Linked DNA regions of Homo sapiens: region 1 is linked to region 2. Evidence: fine-mapped expression QTL. Tissue or cell type: tibial nerve. Region 2 holds a variant in brackets; the other region holds the start of a gene. All regions are shown on one strand. Distances are between the middles of the regions.

Evidence for each region. PIP is the estimated chance that this variant, and not a neighbour inherited with it, causes the effect.
Region 1: it holds the start of FGFBP2, and the variant in region 2 is the best candidate, but not a certain one, in a credible set for the expression of FGFBP2 in tibial nerve (GTEx, PIP 0.63).

What each region holds. Positions count from the first base shown.
Region 1 is chr4:15,961,711-15,964,622 of GRCh38, forward strand. It overlaps FGFBP2 (fibroblast growth factor binding protein 2), which reads right to left and starts at 1,465. Exons shown (of 2, transcript NM_031950.4): 1 at 728-1,465. The coding sequence starts at 1,419. The coding sequence ends at 748. RefSeq lists an enhancer at 1,495-2,336.
Region 2 is chr4:15,392,814-15,395,725 of GRCh38, forward strand. The region is part of intron 1 of C1QTNF7-AS1 (C1QTNF7 antisense RNA 1); the gene reads right to left. It also overlaps a transcript of C1QTNF7 not described here. Among named protein-coding and RNA genes, the nearest start is that of C1QTNF7-AS1, 34 kb to the right of the region's middle. The variant T/C (reference allele first, on the strand shown) is at 1,616.

The DNA of each region.
Region 1 (2,912 bases), 570 kb after region 2:
TCAGTAATAAGCCTTATTTCCACAAGAAAAAGTTTGGTCTTTTAAAAGCAATACTTGGAGTTGATTAAATCTGTTATTATTAATTAGATTTTCTCCTCTGTGATGAACAAAAAACAATTAAAGGCTTTGAGAGCTGTGAGAAAGACTTTAAAGACTATTTGACTCAAACTTTCCTCAGTGCACAACACTCCCCACCCTAACTTGACTGTAGGAGAAAAAACTGAGAACAAGACGGGGTGTGGCGACACCTCCACCATGACATAGCACCTCGGCCACTAACAGCTGCAGCAAATGCTTGGTTCATTAGGAAACGTTACCCGGCAGAATTCCAAAGGCCTCGGTCTAACAGTGAGGTGGTTCCATCACAAGGAGATTCTCAACCTTGGCTGCACATTCAAATCACTTGGGGGAGAGTTTTAAAAGTCCACATTCCTGCGCTACTATGTTGGAGACATAGATGGAACGGTCTGGCGAGGGGCCTGGGCATCAGCATTTTTAGAGCTCCTTGTAGGTGATTCCTATGCAACTCCAGGGTCAAGTGCCACTCCGGATGAACTACCTCATCTACACTGCTCTGCAACAGACAGCCTCAAACCCACCCCCAAACACACGCTGAGACTCTGATGTGGTCGCAGCAGCTGTGAAAGTGCTAAGTGCCTCTCACGTAGTCTCTGTATATAAGTATATACACGTAGTCTCTGTATATGAGTAAAGGAAAGGGTATTACCTGTAGGGGTCTTTCACCTGTCACCCTCGGAAGAAGCTGATGAGAAAGGCGCACAGGGCCTGGAAGGGTTTCCAACAATGTTCCCAGGCCTTCTTCTTTGCTTCCTCATTCCCTCCGGGCCTGGGTCCAGGCTGGGTAGGTTTGGCTGTGGGTCGGGTGGTGGGTTTGGCTTTTCCCAGCTCTTCCATCGAGTCCTTTCCCAGCTGTGTTGCTTCTGTGAGTTTCACTGTGGCCTTGGGCCTCAGAGATGGCGTCCCAGCCTCAGGCTGCTGGTTGGGCTCTGGGCTGCCCTTGAGGCTGGAAGTCACCTGCTGCATATGGGCCTGGGGTCCAGCCTCCCTGCACACGGATGGCCTAAGCACCGGGGCCCCCTGGCACGCATGGTGAAGGCGCCTCAGCTCCTGCAGGGCTTGATTCCAGTAAGGTTTGGGGTCAGCAGCGAAAGCCTGGCACATGCTGGGCTGCCCCCTGTACTCACACCAGTAGGTCTGGTCTGTGTTGCGGCAGTCGACACGAAGCCAGACTTCTCCAGCACCTTGCCCCAAGCTGCTGGGACGCATAGTGCAGGAATCTCTCCCTCCAGTCTGGAAATGGAATTCCTCCCCAGTGCTTCCTTGCTTTTGCCTCGGGGCCTGACCCAAAGTCCCCAGGCAGGACAAGGTCACCAGCAGGAGGCAGGGGACGAACTTCATGGCGATACTCCGATAAACTTGCTTGCAACTCTGCACCAGGAGAGAGAACACAAGTGGGACGAGTCACCCTTTAAAGGGTGCTGCACAAAAGACTCTTTCTCTGCAAGGGTGGGGAGGATGTTTTGCAGCAAATGAGAAACATGCCCACAGACCTTAGACACGTAACACTTGGCAAGGGCAGAGCAGCCACCAGGGGCCGCCCACCACAAGCAAAGGGAATGGTTTTCCTGAGTGCCTCAGAGAGATCTGCCCCAGCCCTGTCACGCACAAAGCGCCACACACAGCTTTGGGGCTGAGGGTTTTACAGTTTTCCAACCACAGGGTGCTTGCTCTAAAATTGGCCCTTGTACGGGAACAGCCTTCTTTGTCAACATTTGGTATATGCCAAGGTGTGGCAGTGGTATTCTGGAAAGTGAGGTTTGCAGCTGGGAGTCTGGGCTGCCTCGAGGCTCCCTCCTGCTCCCTGGAATCCCCATCTTGGGGGACCATGGGTTTAGTTAATCCAAAGGAAGCCAGAATTTTATGAGCCTAAGTGTTATGAGATGGCCTAGCAAATGCAAAAAAGACTATGTGAGGTTGTGTGAGGATGTGTGTGCCAGAGGGACACAGAGACACTCCCCCTCCCACCCACCGAGCTGAGAGTCACCTGGTGTGGCCTCTGTGGGGCTGTCCCGCCATCACCGTGGCCACAGGCCACAGTGCTGCAATGTTCACTTCCCTTGTTATTGCATGCCTTACAATTGCACCAACTGAATGATGACGAGGAAGGCATGCAAATATATGTTCACAGTGGGATTCAGTCTATTTTAGACCATGAATTCTATTTCAAATTCAATTGAAATAACACAGTTTTAATTATATCACAGGAAAATATGATTTTAAATATTATTATTATTGTTCTACAATAGAAAAAAAATAAATTGAAAATAACTTTTGATTCTGTGTCAAGAATCATAGTTTGGTATGGTCATAACTGTCTTTTGATGACCCTTCCAGAGGGCACTGTGGAGTGGACTAAAGGTGGCAATTTGCTGTTAGGAATAGGGTTGACGGATGTTGGGGGACTAGTTTGAATGTGAGGGATTTATCTTGGCGATCCCACGTAGGGTAGTTGGTACCTGGCACAGCCTTCCTTCCACCTGGATATCCTGAGTCCTGAGAAGACCTAGTAGGGCTGGAACTAAAGCCAGGCTGAGCTTCGGCAGCCACTGTGTGTGTAGCAGTGAGAGCCTTCCAGAAGAGGGCATCACCCCAGGTGGGGAGCAGAGGAAGCTTCCAAGAAGTGGTGCCAAACCTTCAAGACAAGTCAGTCAATTTGTCAGGTTGAGAAAGGGTAAAGGGCAGGTGTTTTTTTTGTTTGTTTGTTTGTTTGTTTGTTTTGGCCTCATTCTGTCACCTAGACCGGATTGCACTGGTGTAATTATAGCTCACTGTAGCCTCCAACTCCTGGGCTCAATTACTTCTCCTGCCTCAGCCTCTCAAGTAACTGGGAC
Region 2 (2,912 bases):
ATGAAAATGTACAGGTGAGAGTAACCGGGAAAACAGGTGAATGCCACCTGGGAGTTTGCTATCCTCCAACAAGAAAATCACCATCATGACTGCAATAAAAGCCCAGGAACAGAGACCCTGAGCTGGTCTGGGAGACACACTCTGATATAATTTGACTGTGTCCCCACCCAAATCTCATCTTGAATTGTAGCTCCCAAAATTTCCACGTGTTGTGGAAGGGACCTGGTGGGACATAACTGAATCATGGGGGTGGTTCCCCCCATACTGTTCTTATGGTAGTGAATAAATCTCATGAGATCTGATGGTTTTATAAGGGGAAATCTCTTTCGCTTGGCCCTCTTTTCTGTCTTGTCTGCCGCCATGTAAGACATGCCTTTTGCCTTCCACCATGATTGTGAGGCCTCCCTAGCCATGTGGAAATGTGAGTCCATTAAGCCTCTTTTTCTTTATAAATTACCCAGTTTCAGGTATGTCTTATCAGCAGCATGAAAACAGACTAGTTTCCCTCTAGCTGGAAACAACGTGGGTCCCACACTCTTCTGCAGGCCATTCTGCAGGACTCTTCCACTGTGGTAAGAACCTACAGGCCCCAGGCTGCTAAATCTTAGAAGGAGGCCCCCAGGAAAGCTTAATCACACTAGAAGCCAAAGGTTCTCAACCCTGCCCTTTCTCAGAATCATCTGGGATCACATTAAAACGCAGACTCTCGAGCCCAACACCCAAAGATCTTTATTCTGGAAATGTGAAGTAGGGCTTGGGCATCTTTGCCTTTAACAGGCTTCCCTGGAAATTCTGAGGACCAATGGATTTGATCATCACTAATCCAGGTAGCTTCCTTGCTGTGTGACCTGGGGTAAGGGAGTTCACCTCTCTAAGCCTGTTTCCTCAACTTTAAAATAAGGCAAACCCACCTCTTCCACAGGGTAGTTGTGACAACTAGACGCCATGAGAGCACTAGCACCAAGACAGGGCTACTCACTCATTCACATGTTTGTTGAGGCCTACTATGTGCTGGGCCCTTTCTGGATACAAGAGACACAGCAGTGAACCAGACAGAAACTCTGTTCCCACACAAGCCTTCCTTTCTAATGAGGATAGACAGATAAGAAACCAGTAACCATTTCCTACATCGTATAGTGACTGCATTAAGGGGGAAGTAAGGGCAGAGGGGGTGTGTAGGGCCAAGGCAGGAGGGCTCTATTTCATATAGCAGGGAAGGGAAAGGCTCACAGATACATGAAGTTTGAGCAGAACCCTGAAGGAGATGAGTGAGAGAATGAGCCTGTGAAGGTCTAAAGTGTAAACATTCCAGGCTGAAGGAAAGTCCCATGCAAAGGCCCTGAAGTGGGAGCATGTTTGGAACACTTGAGGAAAGTACGTAAGGTAAATGTGGTTGGGGCAGAGGTGCAAGGGATGATAAGAGGAGCTGAAGTTGGGGTGAAACCCAAGGGCAGATTGTATAGGCTTTGCCAGCCTTCTACATGGAGAGTGAGCTCTCAAGAAACAGTGGCTAAATCCAAGACAACCAAAATGTGCCCAGTAGGGGAATGCCCAGATAACTTACAATCAGCTCATACTGCAGAATGCTAGGCAGAGAAAGGTATTCACCACATAT[T/C]GTTTAGTGAAAAGAGCATGTTGCAGAAAATAGGTATGTTTGGATTCCATTTCAAAAACAAATTCATCCTCATATGTGTACATGTTTGTGCAGAGTCTCAAAAAGGTGGAAGAATGCACACACAAAAGTTTGAACAGTGGGAATCCTTGAGGAATTGGGTTCAAAGGAAGGGATCTGTGTGTGGGGACTCCCACATTTTACTTTGTGTAATTCTATATCATTTTTGGTTTTACGACAAACATATTTTTTATAATTTTCAAAAATTACAAACATGTGTTGGATTCCGATGGAACTAGACTCTCTACTCTTCACATTTTGGGGATCACAGGAGAGATGATGGTGGGTATCAGAAGGTCTTGAACCATAAGGCCTGGCCCTGGTACTTTTTTACCTAAGGCATCCCCAAGTGCCTTAGGATAGATATCGGCACCCAAGGGGATTCTCATTATTAAAGACAATTTGAACACCTCAACTGTTTCCCAAAAGAACTTGAGTAGGACTGTCTTAAAATGTACCTGTGGGATTTTAATTTATGGAGGTGATTCAGTGACAACACAAACAGACTAATGCCATTGAAAGAGAAGTTTTATAACTTATATTTCCCAAGAGGAGGGGGCACACCATGCCACACAGGGCCACATGGGAAAGAGCCTGGCTGGTCAGGGGGCAGAAGGGAGAGAAGAGAGAGCCTGGGCCAGAGCCTTCACTGTGTTTTCCATGGGAAAAGCAAGACAGGGCAGGATAAACAGCTTAGGACTGGCTACTTGGAATAAGTCTGATGGCTTTGGAGCATAGGGACTGTCCCTAGTTGTCTGGTGCCTGGCCCTGGGGTGATTTAGGGAAGAGGGAATATTGGCTCCATGTGTAAGAATTCCATAAAAGAGATGGTGGGGGGCGTGGACTCTGGATTGGTGTTTTTGCATTTAAAAAAAGAGTGCTCTTGGGCAAGCCCCCTTGCTTTCTGTAAGAACTGGCTATGCCTGGGAGGTGCAGTCTCTCCCCAGTCAAATGCCAGAGCATCAGGAACACAGAAAACAAGAAAAGATAGTTAATACAACTGGCCCTGTGATGAATGGATGCCAAATAGACACAGACTCTAAGAAAACAAAGCTGTTACAACCACAACCCAGTTAAAAGAGGCCAGTATACTCAGACTCGTAACTCAGACATTCTCTACCAGGAGGCATGATGGGCTGGGAGCTGGGGGATAGTGAGAAAATAGAGAAAGGCAGGGCCGAGGGAGGGTCCATTGTTCAAATGACACCGAAAAAACAGCAGAAAATTGTAAGACCTACTC